3 linked regions of the Homo sapiens genome follow. The protein of the gene in region 2 interacts with the protein of the main gene of each other region in a biochemical or structural test. Each region holds a gene or a part of one and is shown on either strand. Other genes may lie near its edges.

Region 1 (7,364 bases), on a different chromosome or scaffold from region 2:
ATAGGCTGGGCGCACTGGCTCACACCTGTAACCCCAGCACATCGAGAAGCCAAGGCAAGAGGATCACTTGAGGCCAGGAGCTCGAGACCAGCCCAGGCAACATGGGAAGACCCTGTCTCCATAAAAGATGAAAAATTAGCTATGCATGGTGGCGCACACCTGCAGTCCCAGCTAGTTGGGAGGCTGGTTTGAACCCAGGAGGTCGAGGCTGCGGTGAGCTACAATCGTGTCACTGAACTCTAGCCTGGGTGATACAGCGAGACCCTGTCTTAAAAAAAAAAAAAAAGAATTGAAATGTGAACAAAAAAGAAGCTAAGTTATAAAAGTCTTAGCAGAATTTAATCATAACCTCAGAACAGGAAGACTTTCCCATTCATGACACCAAACTAGGAAACCAGAAAAGGAAAGAGTGATAAGTTTGACCACATAAACCCCAAAATACCTGCCAGACGTTAACAATCATCGTAGGAGAAGATGGGCAAAGAAGTACCTGCACTTGTGTCACCAATAAATGAGTAGCTGCCATAACAAATAAAGAGCTCCTACGAATCAACAAAATGGTGACAGATAACTGTAGACTGGGAAAGACACAATCATACAGGTCCCAGAAAATGAGGTCAGAGTTCAACCTGACGTGTGTGCTTACAAGAAGGAACTGTGCAAGGAAAATGGGCCGGGGAGGGTGGAGGTCGGGGCCACGGAGCTTGCAGGAGCTGAGGCAGCTCAGAGCCAGCCTCGGTGGTGACCCCGTCTCCCTGGTGGGGACACTCCATTTTCCAGCTCTTGATAGAAACACAGGTGACCGTCGGGAGGAGTGGGAGGGAGCTCCTGTGTGGCGAGTCCCTTCGCCTCTAGTGGTCTCTGCTCCCCTTGTGGAAACGCAGTTCCAAGAAAACAAAGAGGAAATGCTGCGAAGAGCCACAAGGACTTTTTCTCTGAGTCACAAGAAGACGAATATACGCTGCAATGACGCAGTGAGGGAAGAAGTCGCCTTGCACCCATATGGCTGCTGAGGATGGGAGAGATGGACGCGTCCTCCGCTGCCGGAACACGGAGCGCCCGGTCTGGTACAGTGCTGATGCTGCGTTTTGTTTTCTGGATTTTACGACATCTTGGGGGCCTCGCTAATCTGGGGATGACGGCCCCTTCCAGGGTAAGCGGATTCCTAAACGTTGCAAACGGCCCGCCTGCGAGCACACTGTGACGTGCAGAGCAACCAACCGCGAGCCCACGCACCTGATCAAACTCTCACGCGCCACGCCCAGGTTCCCTGCCCTGAATCACCCCAGGGCCAGCTCCCAGAACAGGGACCACCCCAACAGCCAAGAGCCGCAAACAGTCGGGAGTCAAACCAGCCCATCCTAGGCACACCCAGCCCATCTACCCCGCCTGGCCCGTCCCTTCCAACCAAAGCCTCGGGAACTGTAACACAAGAGCTTTTCAATAGCAGTCACCTCCTGCTCTCTTGGCCTCACCAGGCCTGATTTAAACCAATCAGAGTGCATCTGAATACACGTACCACCTTTCTGGGTTACAGAAGCATAGAGCCTTTACTGCACTGGGGGTGACAGCACCTCCGTCAACCTGGGATCTGAGAGATCGGGGAGCAAAACCACCAAAGCCCCCAACACAAGCGAGAAATGAGCCTCTGGGATGGCCGGGAGAGTGGGGATGTTTGTTTTAGCAGCAGACGCCAAGCCAGGCTGGCTCATACGCGCCCACAGGCACAGGCCCCGAGGCAGCTGCTCCCACCCCAGGCTCTTTTCCCTGCCCCAGCAGCCCCGCCCATGTCAGCGCATGCACCGTGGCCAGTCCAAGCACCGCACGGGAAGGGTGCACAGTGGGAGCTGCCCGCTCACGTCCCTGTCCCCACTCCCTGGGCGCCCACCATGGGCAGGGCCGGCTCTGAGCCTTTTGTGTGCATTGACTCATCTAATCCTCAAGGGACATTGCTTTCCAAATGAGGAAACTGAGGCACGGAGCGGCTGGGCAACCGAACCCAATCATCTCAGCTGTCCTCCTGCCAACAGCACAATGGAACAGAGACACCGTCCACTGAGCACAGCCACCACCAGGGTCCCGACGGCCCCACCCAGTCCCACTGCCGGCTCCCACCACGGCCCCCAACGCTCCCTACAGGGGCTCCTGGGGCCTCCCTCGCAGCTCGGCCATGCTGGGCCCCGGCGGCCCCCATGCTGCCCTTCCTGCATCCATCTTGGCTGAGGGCAGCTCTGTCCTTCCAGGGCTCAGGCTAAAATCTTGATTTCAAACTCAATCCCCCCTCAGCCCCACACTCAACCTTCAAAAGGTCCTGCTGGCTCTGCTTCCAAAATCCATCCCAGATGGCGCACTGCTCATGGTCCCCACCTGGCCCAGCCCCAGCTTCGCCCACCTGGGCCAGTGCAGTCCCCTCTGCCCTGGTTCCCCTAGCCCACGTCCCGCCCTCACCCCATCTGTCCTCCCCACAGCAGCCACCAGGGGGTGCCTGTGAGCTCCTGAGTCTCGCCCATCCCTCCTCTGCCCGCAGCCCTCCATGGCTCCCACCTCCCTTGGGGTCAAAGCCCAAGTCCTCCCTGCAGCCCACAAGGCCCTGCACACCCTGCCCCGTCCCCTCCCTGCCCTCCCCTCCTCACTGTTCCTCTAAAACACCAGGCGTGGTCCTGCCCCAGAGCCTTTGCACAGTGCCTCTGCCAGACAGCTCCCTCCACACTTCCACAACCCCCTCACTTCCCCTGGATCTCTGTTCAAGTGTGGCCCCCGAGTCCCCAGCCTTGAGGGCACCTCCGCCGCCACTCTCTCCCCTCCTCTGCTCGGCTCTTCTCCGTGGCACTTGTCCACTGCGTTGCGTGTTTTGCTTTTCTTTGCTGTCTGTATGTCCTGGCCCCACTCCCAGAGTTCCTTAGGGGGCCTGGCCCTCTCGTTCCCCCAGGCTCCCAGCACCCGGCCACAGCACACGCAGGAAAGCACACGTAGACGATGCCCGAACCACACCCCACTCCCGGAAACCTTCAGCAGCAGCCCTGCCTGCAAAGTGGAGGCATGAGGCATTTCAGTGGAGGAGAGCGGCCGGGCAGGGTGCTGGGGTCCTCTCTTCACTCAGCCAGAGGCCGGGTCCCCTCGCACCCCCATGCCAGCTCAGGCACCTGGGGGCCCTCATGCTCGACTCCAGCCCCTCCCAAGCTGGCCTCTCAGGGTGGCGGGGAGGCAGGTGCAGGGGCTCCGAGCTAATCCCCTCAGGCTGTAATCCCCATGAGTACTGGCACCACCACGGGCCCCGTCCAGCTGGCGCCTGCTGGCAAATCCTTGCAGGGTCTTGACCGGCCTGGTCCTGCGTGAAGGGACATGCTGCCGGGGCCAGGCGGCAGGCGGCAGGCGGCAGGGAGGCCTGGGCCCCGCTCCTCGTTCACAGCCCCACCCTGTGTGGACTCTCCAGCCCTCCTGGAGCCTCGGTTTCCCCATCTGTAAACAAAGACCCAGGTCGTGCAGCTTCCCAGGGGCTAGGGCCTCACCCATCCCTGTCCTGCCAGGCACTCAGGACACCCGCAGCTCTTGTTCCAAAAGGGAAAGAAGGGGCCACCATGGGGGCGCATGCCTGTAACCCCAGCACTTTGGGAGGTGGAGGCAGGAGGGCTGCTTGGGACCAAGGGTTCGAGACCCTCGCACCCTGGACAACATAGTGAGACCTCACCTCTACAAAAAAGTTTTAAAAATTTAAAAGAGGCTGGGCGCGGTGGCTCACACCTGTAATCCCAGCACTTTGGGAGGCTGAGGCGGGCGGATCACCAGGTCAGGAGATCAACACCCTCCTGGCTAACACGGTGAAACCCTGTCTCTACTAAAAATACAAAACATTAGCCGGGCGTAGTGGCGGACGCCTGTAGTCCCAGCTACTCAGGAGGCTGAGGCAGGAGAATGGCGTGAACCCGGGAGGTGGAGCTTGCAGTGAGCCGAGAACGCGCCACTGCACTCCAGCCCGGGCGAGACAGCGAGACTCCATCTCAAAAAAAAAAAAAAAAAAAAATTTAAAACAAAGGGAAGTCACTTGCTCAGAGGCACACGGGTCTAAGCGGCCAAGGCAGGCTCAGCCCACACCAGGCCCTGGGACCACCCTGCCCAGGCTCCCGGAGCCTCCACCTGCTTTGGGGGTCCCCACTGCCTGCTCACCCCACATCGGCACACACCTGCCACAGTGCCTGGGCTCCCAGTCCTGCTCTGTCCTCAGTCCTCGCCACCCCAGCCACCAGCTCCAGGGCCCAGGCCAAAATCCTTCCAGGCCCCTCGTCTGCCTCCAGGCACCGGTGGCACTCACCTGGACACCTGCCCCAACCCCACAGAGCACTGCCCACGGACCATCCCCCACCAGGCGCTGTGAATCGGGCTCGCCGCCCCACTCAGATGCCCGTGCCACCCGCTGTCCTCAGGTCCGACCCCACGCGACCCTCTCCCACCACGTTGACTTCACTTCTGCGGCTCAAGTGGGTGCAGCAAGTTCCCACCCCACGGCCTCGGCGCGACTATTCCGCTGCCTACATCGCCTGAGCCACAGCCCACCCTTATTCAGCTCGTGGGGACAGTCACCTCCCTCCGAGTCCTCAGCTGCCGCAGGCCTGGCCACTTGACCTCCCAGGTGCCCTCACCACACTCATCACCGCCCAACGCAGCCCGGCTCTGGGCTGGGCAAACATCTTCCGTAAAGGACCGGGCAGCAAGTGTTTTCGGCTTCGTGGGACACGTAGCCCCAAGCATGGCCACTCAGCTCCCAGCTCTGCCGCTGCAGCGTGGGGGCCACCAAGGCCGGCAACGGAACAAATGGTGTGGCCGTTGCCAATAAAACTTTGTTGACAAGAAGCGGCATGGACAGATTCGGGTGGGGTCTCACGTGGCCACTTGTTCCCATCTGCAGCCTGACGCCCAGCAACCTGAGGGCTCCAAGGGGTCAGCGAGGCAGTCCCGTTAGCACCAGAAGACTGGGCACCCTGAGCCCCACCTGGCCCACACGAGGTGCTCAACAAAGGTCTGGAGCCCAGGAGTGGAACTCACACTTTCACGAGCCGACTCCCATGGCGGACCCCAGCGCCCAGGTGAGCTCGCTTGGCACCTGGGCCCCGGAAGCAGCACACGAAGGGGACTCCCTCTCCTCCAACAGCAACCTGGGACGGAGGGGGCACCCAGCTTTCTCACGGGGCCGGCTGCCTGTCCCGTGCCTTCTAAGGGCTTTACCCCATGATTCTCCATGCAGCCCAGGAGAAAGGCAGCCATCACGCCCACTTTACAGACAGGTACACCGAGGCTGCACATCCCCGGCTGGCATGCAATGGCGCTGGGTGTGAACCCAGGAGGGCCGGCCCCCGAGGCCTCTCCACTGGGACACCCAGGCTGTGGTGGTCACAGTGCCTGACCTGCATCCCGGGAGGCGGCCAGGGCGGGAGAGAATGGGGAACTTTCCGTCCCCAGTGTCCTCAGCCTCCGCCTGGGCCCTGCTGACTTGCAACAAGAGACACCACAATCCCACTGACCCTTTTTTTTTTTTTTTTTTGAGATACGATTCTGCTGTCACCCAGGCATGCAGTGGCACGATCACAGCTCAGTGCAGCCTCAGCCTCCCAGGCTCAGGTGATCCTCCTGCCTCAGCCTCCTGAGTAGCTGGAACTACAGGTACATACCATTACGTCTAGCTACTTCTTTTAATTTTTTTTTAGTAGAGACAGGGGTCTTGCTATGTTGCTCCAGGCTGGTCTCAAACTCCTGAGATCAAGTGATCCTCCTGCTTCAGCCTCCCAAAATGCTGGGATTACAGGTGTGAGCCACCGTGCCCGGCCTCCCTGACCTTTTTACACAGACCACCACAGCTACAGGGAGGCCCTGGTGGCGGTGCTGACTCCCTGCCCGGCCGCCCTGTGACCACACTACACTGTGCTCCAGGCAGGCGGGGCCTCTGCTGGGGCCATGCCCTCTTCCTGCCCAATGCCCACAGGTCTCCCTCGGATGCCACCTTCTTGGCAAGGCCTTCCCAGCCACCCCATTCTACCTTACCCTTCCTCCCTGGCACTGCTGGCCTCATGCACCTGATGTTCACCAGGATCTGCACTGTGCTGAGCTCTTCCGGGCGCAGGGGATGCCGCAGGAGTGGCACAGACGGTCTTGGCCCTCGTGGAGCTCTCGCTCAGGAGGAGATGGTCAGAAAACACGTCAGCAGAGCCATATGTTTCAGGTGGTGACAAACGCTATGGTGGCACAATCAGGGAAGAGGAACCGGGAGGGCAGGGGACGGAGAAGGGGAGACCGCTGTGTGGTGACAGCAGGGCAGGGAGGCCTCACGGAGAGGAGATGCTCCCACAAAACCTGGAAAGCGCTAAGGGAGCAAAGGACACAGATGGGAGGAGGGGCATTCCGGGGTGGGGGTGGGGGGCAGCCGTGCAAAGGCCCCGGGGCAGGACCATGCCCTGCATGCTGGAGGAACAGCAAGGGGCCCATGGGCCTACAGCAGAGTGCAGACGGGAGGGCAGGGAGGGCAGAGTGCGGAGGGGAGGGCAGGGAGGGCAGGGAGGGCCCGGGGCAGGCTGTGCAGGGCCTGATGGGCTTCAAAGAGGACTATGTCTTTGACCCCAAGGGAGGTGGGAGCCATGGAGGGCTGCGAGCAGAGGAGGGTCGGGACTCGGGCCGCTGGTTTTTAATGGGGTCCTCCTGGAATGTGGGACAGGGAGCAGAGGAAGAGCAGGGGCGCCAGGCCTGGCTCAGGGGGCAAAGGAGGACTGAGCTGGACCGAGGAGGACTGAGCTGGACGGAGGAGGATCGAGCTGGACCGAGGAGGACCGAGCTGGACAAAGGAGGACTGAGCTGGACCGGGGAGGACCGAGCTGGACCAAGGAGGACCGAGCTGGACCGAGGAGGACCAAGGAGGACCGAGCCAGACGAAGGAGGACTGAGCCGGACGAAGGAGAACCGAGCCGGACAGAGGAGGACCAAGCTGGACTGGGGAGGACTGAGCCGGATGGAGGAGGACTAAGCTGGACCGGGGAGGACCGAGCTGGACCCGGGAGGACCGAGCCAGATGGAGGAGGACCAAGCCGGATAGAGGACCGAGCCGGATGGAGGAGGACTGGGCCGGACGGAGGAGGACCGAGCTGGACCGGGGAGGACCGAGCCAGACAGAGGAGGACTGAGCCAGACGGAGGAGGACTGAGCTGGACCGGGGAGTACTCAGCCAGACGGAGGAGGACCGAGCTGTACGGAGGAGGACCGAGCTGGACCGAGGAGGACCGAGCTGGACCGGGGAGGACCGAGCTGGACCAGGGAGGACCAAGCTGGACCCGGGAGGACCAAGCTGGACCCGGGAGAGGCAGAGGACAGGGAAGGAGTCAGTG
Region 2 (7,160 bases):
CCCTGCAGCTGGAGAGCCCACTTGACTGGACCCCCACAGCCTCCTCACTAAGCATTTTCTGTGGCTCTGCATGACCCAGGGCCTCCACCTGGGGACCACGTGATGCAGCCCACCGACCACACAAGGCACCTCTTCACATGAGAGCGGAGGAGGAGGGGAGAGAGGAGAGGGGAGTGGAGAAAAAGGGGAGGGGAGGAGGGGAAGGGCTGGGGGGGAAGAAGGGAAAGGGCTAGGGGAGGGGAGGAGGGGAAGGGCTAGGGGAGGGGAGGAGGGGAGGGGCTAGGGGAGGGAAGGGGGAGGGGAGGGGAGGGGAGAGTGGAGGGCACAGAGCAGCATCTTCTTAGTCCCTCCCCACATCTGGGCCCCTCTTTACACCCTGGGTCCCCCGAGAGGCACCCTGCGTTCACACAGGACAGAACGGCTGAGGCTACTGAAGCAGGTCAGAGACCGAGGAACGCCATGGCAGGAAGGAGCCCAGGCTGGAGGCTCAGCTCCTCGGCCAAGCTGCCCGTCTGCCCTGGGGGGCTGAACCCAGTGCCCTGGCAGGCATGCGGGGCAGGGTGAGCAGGTGGGGCCATCCTACCATGCACTGGGCCAGCGCAGCAGCGATCTGCTGGATGTCATCCACAGTGTGGACCCTCAGGGACACCAGAGTCTCCGTGATGTTCTTGCGTATCTGGGCTCGGTGCTGCCGCTCGTGCTTGGGCTCTGCCGCCACGTCCAGGGCCCGCTCGTACTGGGGCAGGCAGGGGGCACAGCAAGCTGTCAGCAGCGCAGGAGGCCGGCAGGAGGCCAGCAGATGCCCACGACTCCCGGGGTGCAGTTACGTGCTAGACGCTGTGTGATGCGGGCACTGACCCACAACACTGAGCTGTTTCTTCATGGGCAAAACAGGGTAAGCACATGGGCCCTCCTGGGCGGGGGCTGCATTGTGGAAAGCAGACGCCGGAGAGGGCCCGGTGGGTGTGGCTGCTGGGAGCGGAAGGTCGGGGTGCTGCTTCAGGGTCACTGGGATTTATCTCTGGGGCCCGGGATGAGCCCTCTGCAAAGCTCCAGGCAGGGGTACAGGTCTTGGTCCCAAGCACGCATGCAGCAGATGTGACGTCCCCTCCCAGGCTGCACTCACCTCGTTCAGCACGGTGACCAGGGCCAACGAGTACTCGATGACGTGCTGGGGATCGGCCTGCCGCAGCAGCCCTGGGAGCACACTAGCGGTGAGCCCGTGCAGCCAGACTGTGAGCCCCGTTGCGCTGCCGTTGGGCTCTGGGAGGGTGATGGCCAAAGACCTACGAGCAGAGGGGGGTGGTGAGCAGGTGGCAGTCTCGGGGGCGCCCTCCCACGGCCTGGCTCACCTGTTGAGGGCGACCACAGCGGCTCCCAGCTGGTCCTGCACCACCACGGCCAGGCCCACCTCGAAGTGTGGCCTGAAACCCGGGGGCAGCACGGCTCCGTAGCTGGAGAGGCTGCCCTTGTAGACACAGAACTCCTCGCAGTGGCCCTGGCGACAGCGCCGCAGCAGCAGGGCGTACACCAGCGGGGCGCCAGCATCCTCCGCGTCATGCCAGCCTGAGGGACGGTCCCCACGGCATCACGGGAGGGCTCCGTGACGTCACAGAGTCGGGGGATCCCGCTGCTCCCCCCACGCAGGCCTGCACTCACCCGTGCATTCGAAGTGCACCTTGGTGGTGAGGGCGTGCACAGCGCCCAGTGGGAAGAGGCGGCAAGAGCCCCCCAGCGGCGGGCGGTTGGGGGACAGGCGGATGGAGGCGCAGCCCTCCTCCTCGCCAGAGCGGCCCAGCACCGTGAGCGTGAAGGTGTATCCCTCGCCGTCCCGCAGCACGCCCCGCCGCAGCACCAGTCGCATGCCTGCACTGCCCGTGGATGTGGTGGTCTCATCCAGCACCAGCGTCTTGTTGCTGAACGTACGTGCAGCCCACCGCTGCAGGCAGAAGGGGTGGTGAGGGGGCGCAACCCTCTGCCCTGTCAGCCCCACTTCTGCCTGCAGGCCCCGTCCCCTCGGCCATGGGACCCATCCCCAGCCCGCCCACACCCCGCTCAACACTCACCCCTCGCTTGGAGCCGCTGCTGCAATTGAGGCAGCGGCCCTCCAAGTACACGTAGGAGCTGCGGCTCACTTCGTACACGGCCTGTGCCTTGCAGGACACACACTCCAAGGACACAATGGGCACCCGGCCACTCCGGATCAGCACCTGGCGTGGGAGTGGGGTTACCTCCAACACAGGTCTATTTGGCCTGCTGGAAGGACTGGGGGACCCATGGAGGATGCTGCTCCCAAACTCCAGGTTTCCCAGGGGCCTGGCCACTGCCGGTGAGCTCACTCCCTCCCAGGATACTCATCCGGTTTGCCACCTTCCAACTTGGACGGCGGAAGGGCATACACAGGGCAGAGGACACTGGAGTGTGCGTTCTGGTGTACTGGACCCAGCTGGACCCTAGCAGGAGGCAGGCAATGCTCACTGAGGGCCCCTGGGGGGATGCGTGTGAGAAGAGACGTATGTGTGGGTGTGAGGACCGCAGCTGCCACGTAGGCCTGACTCACAGACTCCTGCAGCCCTTAGCCAGGGCCTGGGTCAGGAGGCTGAGCTGGGATGGAACCTGCTCCCACACCCTCCCCTCAGACGACCCCTCTGGGAAGACCCCCAATCAGGCCAGCTGAGGAAAGCAGGGACTGGGGAACAGACGCCCACTCTGGGGCACCAGCAGGCCCCGCCTGACAGCAGCAGGAGCAGCCACCACGGGCTCAGGGTCACCAAGCCTCCTGGCCGGTCCAGAGAGGGGAGCGTGAGGGTGAGAACCGGCCCACCACATCCAGCAACAGGGACATGGGCTGGGGACAGTGGCTACCTCTGGGGTGGGAAGGGGCTCTTCCTCACTGTTGGTATTGCTAGGGGACTGTGTAGCTTTTGCCACTAGAGCATATGTGGCTTGAAGACTGTACGTGGAACTGTGGCAGGTTTGGAAGGAAGCAAAGCTGAAGCAGGCTGTCGTGTTACATAGAATTTGCATCAGAAACAGAGAGGGGAGAGCGTGCGGCCTCCACCAGCACTAAAACACGGAAAACAGTAGATGACCAGGGAGGCTGGGCTGTCCAAGGCAAGTGGCCGAGGGGCGGGCGGCACCCACCGTCTGGTTGGTGGCCTCCTCCTTGCGGCCGGCCTTCCACACGGTCAGGCTGAAGGTGTACTCCACGCCAGCCGCCAGCCGCTCCCGTGGAATGGTGACCGTGCTGCTCCCGCGGGGCCCAAAGTTCAGCGCACACCCGCCAGCCTCCCTCTGCAGGCCGAGAACAAGGGGCGACGTGGCCTGAGAGCCCCATCCAGTTTTAAAGCAGAGCCCGGCCCAGGAGACAGCGCGGGAGACCCCCTCCCCATGCTGGGACGGGGCCCACCAGGCACTGAGGACGGGCCAGCCCTGGTGGCAAGCTGGGTGTTCTCTGGGCTCATGGGTGTGGACGGGTGAGGGGCATGGAGGACGGCCCTGCCACGCACTGACCTGTGTCGAAGCCACACAGGCCCAGTGGAAACTGAGCGGCGTCTGGTCGCCGTCCTCCAGGTTGGGGTCGTAGGACTCGCTCCCATCCAGCACCAGGTCCCGTGTGTCTGACCACACGCGGTATGAGCCACCCTCAATGATGGGCACCAGGCGCTCGGGGGCCACCGTCACATTGGCCTGGATGCTCTGTGTCAGTGGCGTGTCCCCAAATGACACGACAAACACAAAGCAGTAGTGCCCCACAGGCAGCGCCAGCCGCGGCAGCACCAGCCGAGGCCGGCTCACGTCCACGCCGGGCAGGGCCACACGCGCTGGGCGCCCCGGCCGCTGGCAGCTGGCGGTGCGATACACCTCCCAGCGGTACTCAGTCTGGTAGGTGACGCAGTCGCGCAGGTCAACGTGGGCCTCCAAGTAGTTGCGCTGTGATCGCCGCATCAGCACCTGCAGGGGCAGGACCACGTCCACCTCCGGCTCCCGGCAGGCCAGCACCTGGACGGTCACCGTGGCCTGCGCCACGAAGAAGCTCACCAGGTTGGAGGCGTTCACCTGCACGCGGTAGTCCCCAGGCCTCAGGTAGGAGTGCTCGGCCCTGGGCTCATCTGTGTCCTGCCCTGGCGACCCATCCCCAAAGTCCCAGTGGTAGGCCACACGCCGGGGGCTGGGGCTGGTGGCGGCCTCAAACTGCGCCGAGCGGTTGGTGAAGCAGGGGCCGCTCTGCAGGGCCACATACTGGACGGCGTCCTGAACCTCCAGCACCAGCGTGCGGTTCTCACTGCCCAGGGCGTTGAAGGCGCGCACCTGGATCTCCAACAGCCCCGCGGCCACGGGCGTGTAGGTGACGTCGCGGCCCGACAGGATGACCAGCGAGTCGCCCTGGACCTTCTGCAGCGAGAAGTACCAGGCGTAGGCGACCCGAGAGCCGCGCTGCACGCGGGCTGTGAAGTTCCTCTCAGTGCCCGTGGCGATGCCAGGCTCGCAGCAGTTGGGCACCTGCAGCCCACTCACGGCCTCCAGCACCACGATGCGCACCTGCGCCTGGGCCCAGCTCACGTGGTTTTTGCCCCGCACGCTCACCACGTGGTCTCCGACGCGGGGGAAGCTGTGGGAGAAACGGGGCCCGGGGAGCACCTCGGGGTTGGCCCCGCCGACCTGCAGGCGGAAGGTGACAGCTGAGCCGGCAGCCAGCAGGATCTGAAAATGGACCAGCTGCCCGGGCGCCACCACCTTGCTGCTGGCCCACAGCACCAGGCCCACGATGGGCTCCTCCGCCGTGAGGTTGTACGTGGCTGAGACCCAGCTGACTGCGTTGGAGGCATTGAGCCGGATGGAGAAGGTGCCAGCATCCGGGAAGACCATGGTGACATGAGGGCCACGCTTGCTGCTGCCGCCGGGCACAGCCCAGCACCAGCTCACATTGGTGCCCGTGGCCAGCTGCCCCCAAAAGGGCACAGAGGACCCGGCCGCCACGAAGCTGCCTCCGGGCTCGCTGGCCCTGATGCTGAGGCCACTCACAGGCACCTGCACATCCACTTCCACGGTGGCGTTGGCTGAGCCCAGCGGGTTCCCTGCCGTCATGGTGACCAAGTGCAGGCCGGGTGTGGGGAAGCTATGGGTGGTAAATGGCTCGGAGGTCTCCCAGCTCAGCCCCTCCTCCAAGGACCAAGTGTATACGACACCACTGCCACCAGCCAGCTCGGCACTGAGGGTGACGCTTGTGTTGACGGCAGCTGGGTTCGGGGAGGCGGCCACCATCAGCCACCCCACAGGCTCCACGAAGTCCATGGTGCAGTCGGCCCAGGCGCTGCCCAGCATGTTGGTGGCCCGCAGCTGCACATGGTAGGTGCCGGCCTCGAGCACGGTGAGCGAGAAGCCTTTGCCGCTGCCGGCCAGGGCCGGGCCCCTGTCCCTCCAGGCAGTCCAGCTGTAGGAGACGTTGGTGCCATCCCTAACCACGGCCTGCAGCTGTACCGTGTGGTTGGTGGGGAAGTAGCGGCCACCGCCCACCACCTGCAGCCCCTCTATGAGCTGCAGGACATAGACGAAGATGCTGTCCTGGGCGGAGCCCACCTCGTTCTCAGCCGTGACGATGATATTGAAGGTGCCCACGGAGCGGAAGGTGTAAGAGATGGTAGGACCCCCAGGGATGGGCGTGCAGCGGTCACAGAGCACCCAGGAATAGCGCACATCACTGCCGGCCTCCAGCGACGTGCTGAAGCTCACGCTCCCATTCAGGGGCACCACCGTGCGGCTTGCATTGACGACGAGCCCCCGCACGCGCCGCTTCACCGTCACATTGAGCCAGGCCTCGCTGCGGCTCACCTCATTCCAGCCGGCCACCCTAACGGTGAAGTCACCTGTGCTGTTGTAAGCGTGGGTGACCTCCGGACCCTCGAGCCACCCACCGTCCCCCAGATCCCACAGGTAGCTGGCGGGGCGCCCACGGCCCACAGCAGAGAACAGGTACGGCTGCTGCAGCTCCAGCCCAAGGGAGCCATTGACCTTGATGCTGGTGACCAGCACGGGCTCCTGCACCTCCACCAGGGCTGAGTCATTGGCAGCAGAGATGTTGTTGGACGCGGTGACTGTCACAAGATAGGAGCCTGGGTCTCGGTAGATGAACGTCACCTCAGGGCCCCTGGCACGGGTGGGGGCGGCTTCCTCGGTGCCAAAGTCCCAGGTGTAGCGGTAGGGGAACGGGGGCCAGGCACATGCCACCAGCCAGGCCTCGTCCCCGAGCTGCACAAACTGCCTCTCTGGCTGCAGGGTGACGTTGCCCACCTCTGGCTCCACGCAGATGCTGGTGAAGTAATGCGCCCTGTTCACGCGGCTGGACAGCACCAGCGCCAGGGGGAACGTGCCGCTCCGCGTGAAGTTGTGTGTCACCGTCGGGCACCCCCGCACGGTCGTGTTGGAGGAGCCATCCCCGAAGGTCCAGTCGAAGAGGTAGTGGGCCGGGTTCCCGGTGACGTAGGCCGTGAGCCGCGCGTCAGGCTGCGTGGGGATGCAGGCGGCGGGTTCAACGCGCAGCACCTCCAGGACGAAGACCAGCACGTGCAGGCTCCGGGCCAGGTGGCCGGCGGGGCTGGCCGCACCCACGGTCACTGTGCAGTTCTGTGCCCGCAGGTACACATGCTCCACTGTTGCCTCCGGGCCCGACAGCACGGTGCCGTCCCCCATGTCGAAGGTCCACGTGATGTTGTCGCCCGTCTGCACCGCGGCGCTGACCACCACGGGGGCGCCCTGCTCCACGGCCAGGCTCATGTCCACGCTGAGTCCGCGGAGCTCCTCAAAGACGCGCACATCCGCCTGGGCCGCCGCACCGCTCACCGTGTTGTTGACCTCCAGGCGCACGTGGTAGGTGCCCCTCGAGGCATAGGTGTGGTTGGCAGCCGGCTGGCTCTGGGTCAGGACAGGGGAGCCGTCCCCGAAGTCCCACGTGTAAAGAACACCCCCAGGCGAGGGCAGCGGGTGCGGGTAGAAGGTGACGGGCCGGCCGGCCACCAGGACGCCGTCACTCACACCCACAGCCACGGAGGGCAGGGAGGCGCGCACGCTCACAGGCACCTGCTGCGTCAGGTTCTCGAAGGCATTAGATGCCAGCACGGTCAGGAGGTACTCACCTGTGGGGACAGGCCCGAGTGGGGCAG
Region 3 (7,364 bases), on a different chromosome or scaffold from region 2:
TCACTGACTTTAAATCTTTTATCTTTTTTTTAATATACACAATTAAAACTATAAATTTCCATCTAAGTACTGTTTAACCTGTATCTCATTTAAAAAATGAATTTTTCAAAGAGTCATTCAAATTTTTCTTTGGTACTAGGTAAAAAATACTCTCTTGGGAATTGGGGAGGAGTTGAATGGAAAAGAATCTAAGGGAATGTTTCTCCATAATCCTAGTATGAATTGATTTACTTCTCAGTAACCTTACCTTATTACCATCAAATAGACAGAGGCGTACATGTCTGCTGAGAACCTGTATGCTCATTCCTGGAAGAGGAATCATTTTACAGCTCCATAATGTCAGAATCAATGAAATACGACTTGGTCTCGACCTAATCTGAAAGAAAAATTAGTTATAAAAAAGTTTATTTTTATGATTTCTAACACAAATCTGTCTTTTGTGAATTCGGCTTATGAAAATGTATACAGAATTTTTAAAAAAGAAAAAATTTACACATATACAATAAAAGTTTCAATACTCTGTTCATTGAAAATTAAATCAGTCATTTTAGGTAAATTTTTCATAGAGTTACATTTGAAATATTGCATTTTTCTTAAATACTTAAAAGCTGTGATGAAAGGAACAATAAATATTGGCAGGCAAAATGTATATGATCTATGACTATAGAATCACTGTATTCCAGTCCCGGTTCACTCCTACAGAATGTGGGTAAGTGCAGAAGGCTAACGCAGCATAAAACCAATGCCACCTGGCATTAAGATTATCCCCACTATTTTTTATTCCAAGCAATTATCTGCATAGTTCCTTAGTTTCTTAATAGGTGTTTTAACAGAGAGAATGCACTATCTGATATATTTATTCAGATCTGCTTCATAGGTATAATTCAGATTGTGAGTAAATAAATTGGCATTCTGATTTTTTATTTTTTAAGAACAGCTTCAATTCATTAAACTTTACATTCTGCTTTACGGTCATAAGCCTTTTCATTTAAATAACTTATATTAGACTGGGACTGGTGGCTCACACTTGTAATCCTAGCACTTTGGGAGGGATAGGAGGGCAGATTGCTTGAGCTCAGGAGTTTGAGACCAGCCTGGCAACGTGGCAAAACCCCATCTTTACAAAAAATACAAAAATTACCTGGGCATGGTGGTGTAGGCCTGTGGCCCCAGCTACTCAGGAAGCTGAAGTGGGAGGGTCGCTTGAGCCCAGGAATTTGAGGTTACAGTGAGCCATGATCACACCACTGCCCTCTAGCCTGGGTGACAGAGGGAGACCCTGTCTCAAAAATACTACTACTACTGCTACTACTACTATAAATGATAATAATGGCTAACATCTATTGAGTTCTTTTCATATGCCAGGCATTATTCAAAACCCTTCACACACATAATTATCAAAATAACTTTATGTTGGAAGCATTACTATTACTCCATCTTTACAGATGAAGAAATTGAGGCAAAGAATGATTAAGATAGAAACCTAGTATTATTTCCTTTCTAACAATGAGAGAAGAGTGCAATGGAGAAGAGAAACAAGATAAAGTCAAGGTAGCAAGTCCAAATTCTGCCTTAGTTATAAAAATATCGCTATTTTCAAAATTATCATAAACAATTTTTTTGTTTTTTATAATTCATTAGTCAATTAACATGTTGTTTGTCTAATTGCAACTATGACAAAATCTGGAAGAGTTACACTTTTACTGATAGTAACTATACTTACAGTGCCTTCTGTAGCATCCCACATCAGATCTCTGAAGGCCAGTTGTGAAGGCATGAGCTCTGGTTGTAAGAAGTAATTTGCTCGAAATTGATTCCCTGAAAAAATCATTTTTTCTTCATTTTCTTACAAAGAAAGAAACTCCAAATCAAAAATCCATAATGTTATGCTATGAACTAGAGTACAGGCACTTCCAAAATGCCACGCTGCTTACTAAGAACTTGCTTTCCAAAATAGAAGCGCCAATATAGATTTATGGATAAAAACAGCAGTACAAAACTTACAGATACAAACACATAAAAGATCATCTTAAAGCACCTTTAAGAAAGACTTTTAGGCCAATAATATGCCCCATGATGACAAGGATTCATTCAAATATTTTTGTAAAATGCAGAAATCTATGAGCACTTTTTGGAGACTTCAGAAAAAACAAAGTCGTTAGTTTTACTTCTTAACACAAAAGCATTTTATGCTCTTCCTCCATGCTTTAGTCATGAATAATACTTTTAATAACATCATTTATCCATTCGAGAAATAATTTTTGAGCTTCTACTCTTGCCAGATGCTACACCAGGTTCTAGAAATACAAAGATAAATCAGAGATATGTCCCCTGCCCTCCATAGTTTACAGTTGAATGGGAGGAAAATTTTCTTAGAAAATAAGTAGACAAGCAAATAAATAAAATAATTATTAGGGGACATAGAGCTATAAAGGGTGTTCACATGAATGGGAGTAAGGGAAACCCACATTACTCAAGGAAGGCATCTCTGGGAAGGCAGAATTTACCGCGAGACCTGAAGGATGAAAAGATGGGAATTTAGGGAGTACTGGGAAGAACCTTCCCAGCAAAGGCATCCTCAAAGCAGCCCTTCCATGACAACTCAACAACTCAGGGTATACAGGACACCCCTTGTCCCCCAGCATGAATCCTCTTTAAAATGAGCTTATAGACAAAAGTTGCCAAATACAGGGAAAGCCAAGAATGAGTAAGGAAAATGAAAATTCCAAATGGAGATAATTCTTTGGAAAAGTCTTGCTTGGAAGAAGATCAGAGAAAAGGAGGTTTTGGCTAGAATGGGATAGGATTCAAGGGGCTGATCCTTTAAGGTGGGGAGAATTAGGTGTGCTGATAGCACAGATGAGGGAATGAACCAGTGTGGGGAAGGTGGGCCAGCTAAAGACACAGGAAAGGGCTGAAAATTAAAGGAGTCACATTTTTGAAAAAAAGAAAGGGGCTGGAACCCGGAGCACTGGTAAACAGGCTGGCCTCTGATAGGATCAGGGATCTTTCCTCACTGTCATAGGAAGGATGAGGAAAAGATGAGCACCAAAGAGATGTGAGATTCAACATCTTCTTCAACAATGTGTTTTGCCTGTGACAGAAAAATTAGACGTGGATCTTGACTGCTTTGCTGAAAGAGTGCAGTGGCTGATAGGCACGCATTACCTTCCTCCAGAAGCTGTGAGAGCGTGGAAGGCCTGAACCCTGCAGGAATAGCTCCCATCGTAGTTAACACATCAACAGTGTTTATCTGCTGAAGACAGTAACATCAAAATGGATTTGTTTTCAGTCATGTTTCTGCATCTCTATAATACTTTATCACTAGAGTAACTATAACCCAAAAAAGAAAAATATAAACATACAGACTTTAGTGGAAGAATAATACGATTTGGCCCCAAATTCCTGAGAGGATGCCATCACAGCACCCTGGCCTCTCCTAAGGACCTAAGCCCCATACAGTGCCCAGCGTGCAGAGCTGTGTGTTCCGGAGCAGCTGCTTCAAGTATACCCTTATCAAAATGTCCCTGCTCCTGTCCTGCTCCACCCTGCGCTTCCATTTCACAGGTAAGTTAATGTCTATTGGCAAATCACATGCACTGAAGAATTAATGGATTTTTTTTGTATACACATACACACTACTCATAGACACACACCCTCACACATACAAGGATGTACTTATAAGTAATAAATAACGAAAAAGGTCAGGAAGGACACGTACTAAATTGTTAATGGTGATTACTTATGAGTTTGAGGAAGAGAATTTTCATTTGGCTATGTAATTATTTTTTTGTTTTTTGAGACGGAGTCTCACTCTGTCGCCCAGGCTGGAGTACAGTGGAGTATTCTCGGCTCACTGCAACCTCCGCCTCCCAGGTTCAAGCAATTCTCCTGCCTCAGCCTCCCCAGGAGCTGGGACTACAGACATGCGCTACCACGCCCAGCTAATTTTTCTATTTTTAGTCGAGGTGAGGTTTCGCTGTGTTGACTAGGCTGGTCTTGAACTCTTGACCCCAGGTGATCCACCCGCCTTGGCCTCCCAAAGTGCTGGGATTACAGGTGTGAGCCACTGTGCCCATGAGCCACTGTGCCCGGCCTGTAATTTTTTTTTAATGACAGAATTATGGATCATTTCTCCTTTAAAAAAATGTAATTAATTACTTTTTTTTTTTTAAGACAGGGTCTTGCCCTGTCACTCATGCTCTGGAGTGCAGTGGCACAATCACAGCTCACTACAGCCTTGACTTCCCAAACTCATGCAATCCTCCCACCTCAGCCTCCCGAGTAGCTGGGACTACAGGCATGAGCCACCACACCTGGCTAATTTTTCTTATTTTTTGTAGGATAGGGTCTCACTATGTTGCTCAAGCTGGTCTTGAATTCCTGGCCTCAAGTGATCCTCCTGCTTCAGCTTCCCAAAATGTTGGGATTACCAGTGTGAATCACCATGCCTGGCCAATTTCTTACTTTTTATTAAAGGCTTTCAGGATTTTTCGAATAGTAAATAAAATTTAACATCTGTTTCCACTCAAATGATAGGAAAGCAGGATCAATGAGAATGTTTCCAAGTCCTCAAGTGACACCATGAATTATCTATTCTTTTTGTACAAAAAAAAAAAAAAACTAATGAGAAATGTTACTTGGAGCACAGGCTTAGAAACCAGAAATATACGTCCTCTGCTCTGTACATTCCATGCCCTGAACCCTGTTTCAGATCCATTGGTGTCTTCCACAGTCTCCATCCTATTTCGCATCAGAACTATTAGGTAGCAAAACGAGACATGATTAACAAGACAGAAGATGCCCGCCTCTGAAATCGCTTTCTGAACAGCACTCCAGTGGGGATCAGTTCTGGGGAGACAAAATAGCAAAGTGAGTCAGGTCAGGTTATGCCTATTCACTCAATTAGGGAACTTCTTTAATCACAGTTGATAATCATCAGTAAGTTTTGAAAATCTAACAGTTTCCAGATGAAAACGAGGTAGAGCTAAATGTATTAAAAATAATTACAAAACTAAAACAGTAATGATCTTTAAGCAGACAATAGTATGAAAAGCTCTCCAGGTACAAGTTGTCTCCATTTCAAGAAAGTATTGAATTAGTTATAATAATAAAAATAAACAAATAAAATGTTTCCTAAACCTACTTTGATATCCTTTCCCACTTTTGTACCTTTGCTTAACTTCTGCTCCATCTGCTGTTTCATCCACCGCCTCTACATCTTCTTCACTGCCCTCTTCACTTGACTCTTGGCCTTCTTCTTCTTCACTATAAGGCTAAAAAACCATTGAAATGTGAAGTGCTTTTTAACTAATGCAAAAAACAACCAATAAAAATACCAGTACTGCCACCTAACCCTCCAGTAAAAACAAAAACAAGCTTTTCTGTTTAAAAACAAAAAAACAAAAGCATCAGTACTTTCAGAAAATCTTGAGCATAGATGGGAATTTAGTATATATGATGAGCATATAAAACTCAGTGGGAAATAAATTTTCAACACATGGTTAATAACTTTGCTATTTGAAAAAATAAGAACTGAGATAGACAGCAAGTTTAATCAAAATAAATTCCAGATGGAATTTACTTAAATAAAAAAGAAAAGACGTAAAGATAAAAATAAAAGAAACATAAAAGCATTAGAAGAAAATAATCTAGAGATGGGGAAGCCCTTTCCAATCATGATACAAAATCAAAAATCATAAGTGGAAACACTGACAGATTTAGCTACATAATAAATAAACATGACCTAAAGTCAACAAAGAAAATATCTAACACATAACTTAAGCATATCCTGAGGGGAAAAAAAGAAAATAGCTCACACAAATATCTAAGGATTAATATCCTGATTATTAAAATATTATAAAAGCTCTTAGAAATCAATGAAAGAGTTTTTTAAATCCCTTAGAAAAAAATATCCAAAAGAACTGAAAAGGTACCAACACATAAAAATGATAAGCACTCAAGGTGATGGAAATCTCAAATACCCTGACTTGATTATTACACAATCCATACAAGTAAAAAGCACTCACACAAATACATAAAATATTATGTATCAATAAAGAAAACCGAAAGTGCCATTCGCAAAGAAGATATACAAATGGTCATAAAGCATATGAGATGATGCTTAACCTCATTAGGAGTACAGTAAATGCACATTAAACCACTAATGACACTTTTTTTGCTGGTCATATTGGCAAAAATTTTAAAGATTGCTAACAGCCATCACTGGCAATTGTGTGAGGAAACAGCACTCACTGATTGTTAGAGGTGGGAGTACAAATTGGCATAACTTTTCTAAAAGGCAAATTGGAAAAATAAATCAAAATATAAAGCTATAAACCCTTTGAACCAGTGATGAACATCTAGGAATTTATCTAAGGGGATAATCGGGCAAGTGTGCAAAGATGCACGCAGGCTTGATGACAACACAAGTTGCTGGCTGGCTACCACCTATTCCCCACCTCCTTTTTCAAACAAAATCCCTGATTTAACAATGATCCAGTTAAAAGACTACATTTCCCAAGACTTCCTTGCAGCTAACTGTTGCCAGAGAACTAAATGCTGGTCAATGAGCAACAGTTGAAAGTTTTTTTGTGTAACTTCCAAGAAACCTTCTTAAAAAGGCAGCAGCTTATGCCTTTTGAATTCTTTCCCCTTTTGCTCCTTGGAATCCTTAAAAGATCCAGCAGCTGACTTAAAACTAAAGAGATAACTCTAGGCAGAGCAGCCTCACATCAGAAACAGGATAAAATACTGGATAGGATCTTAACCAATTATTGATTGCTTTTCTCCACACTTTTATGCTTGAGAGAAATAGGCTTCTACCTTATTTAAGCTACTTTTTGGGGGGATCTTTTTGCAACTGACAGTGGATGCTAATCCCATGTTCTTTGCAACATAATCGATAGTGATTATAGGTTGGAAACAACTTCAATGACCATCTAAATGAGATTAGAAGACTTGCTGCCATTGAAAAAGATGATCTAGACCTGCCCTATGTAATACAATAGCCCTTTGGCCACATGTAGCTAGTGAGCTCTTGAAATTAATCCAAACTGAGAAGTGCTGTAAATGTAAAACACACATTGGATTTTGAACTTAATGTTAAAAAAGCAAAACAACTCAATATTTTTAAATATTGATATGTCAAAATAGTATTTTTGATATACTGGATAATATAAAATATATTATTAAAAATAATTCTACCTGTTTCTTTTTACTTTTTAAAAATGTGTGTAATGAAAAACATGTATTTGTTCTTTGTCACTGATTCCTGGCACAGAGCTCCTGAAACCCTTGGAATTTCCTGAATGATAGGAGTATGTTTTCTTACTCATCAAGAGTCCCCTTCAGTCACTCCTGAG

The links.
Region 1: of the proteins of PKD1 (region 2) and PIP5K1C, one has a biochemical effect on the other in vitro, tested with the Homo sapiens proteins (one study listed by BioGRID).
Region 3: the proteins of PKD1 (region 2) and NPHP1 are reported together in a solved structure, tested with the Homo sapiens proteins (one study listed by BioGRID and IntAct).

What each region holds. Positions count from the first base shown.
Region 1 is NC_000019.10:3,690,212-3,697,575, forward strand, and holds part of PIP5K1C (phosphatidylinositol 4-phosphate 5-kinase type-1 gamma), read right to left. Parts: intron 1-7,364. UniProt on the Homo sapiens protein: Catalyzes the phosphorylation of phosphatidylinositol 4-phosphate (PtdIns(4)P/PI4P) to form phosphatidylinositol 4,5-bisphosphate (PtdIns(4,5)P2/PIP2), a lipid second messenger that regulates several cellular processes such as signal transduction, vesicle trafficking, actin cytoskeleton dynamics, cell adhesion, and cell motility.
Region 2 is NC_000016.10:2,104,739-2,111,898, forward strand, and holds part of PKD1 (polycystin-1 isoform 1 precursor), read right to left. Parts: intron 7,134-7,160; coding exon 3,514-7,133; intron 3,295-3,513; coding exon 3,145-3,294; intron 2,211-3,144; coding exon 2,067-2,210; intron 2,016-2,066; exon of another isoform or gene 1,940-2,015; coding exon 1,660-1,939; intron 1,567-1,659; coding exon 1,353-1,566; intron 1,287-1,352; coding exon 1,127-1,286; intron 737-1,126; coding exon 584-736; intron 1-583. UniProt on the Homo sapiens protein: Component of a heteromeric calcium-permeable ion channel formed by PKD1 and PKD2 that is activated by interaction between PKD1 and a Wnt family member, such as WNT3A and WNT9B. Both PKD1 and PKD2 are required for channel activity.
Region 3 is NC_000002.12:110,159,880-110,167,243, forward strand, and holds part of NPHP1 (nephrocystin-1), read right to left. Parts: intron 5,277-7,364; coding exon 5,173-5,276; intron 4,852-5,172; coding exon 4,809-4,851; coding exon of another isoform or gene 4,641-4,808; intron 3,257-4,640; coding exon 3,169-3,256; intron 1,819-3,168; coding exon 1,724-1,818; intron 377-1,723; coding exon 248-376; intron 1-247. UniProt on the Homo sapiens protein: Together with BCAR1 it may play a role in the control of epithelial cell polarity. Involved in the organization of apical junctions in kidney cells together with NPHP4 and RPGRIP1L/NPHP8. Does not seem to be strictly required for ciliogenesis.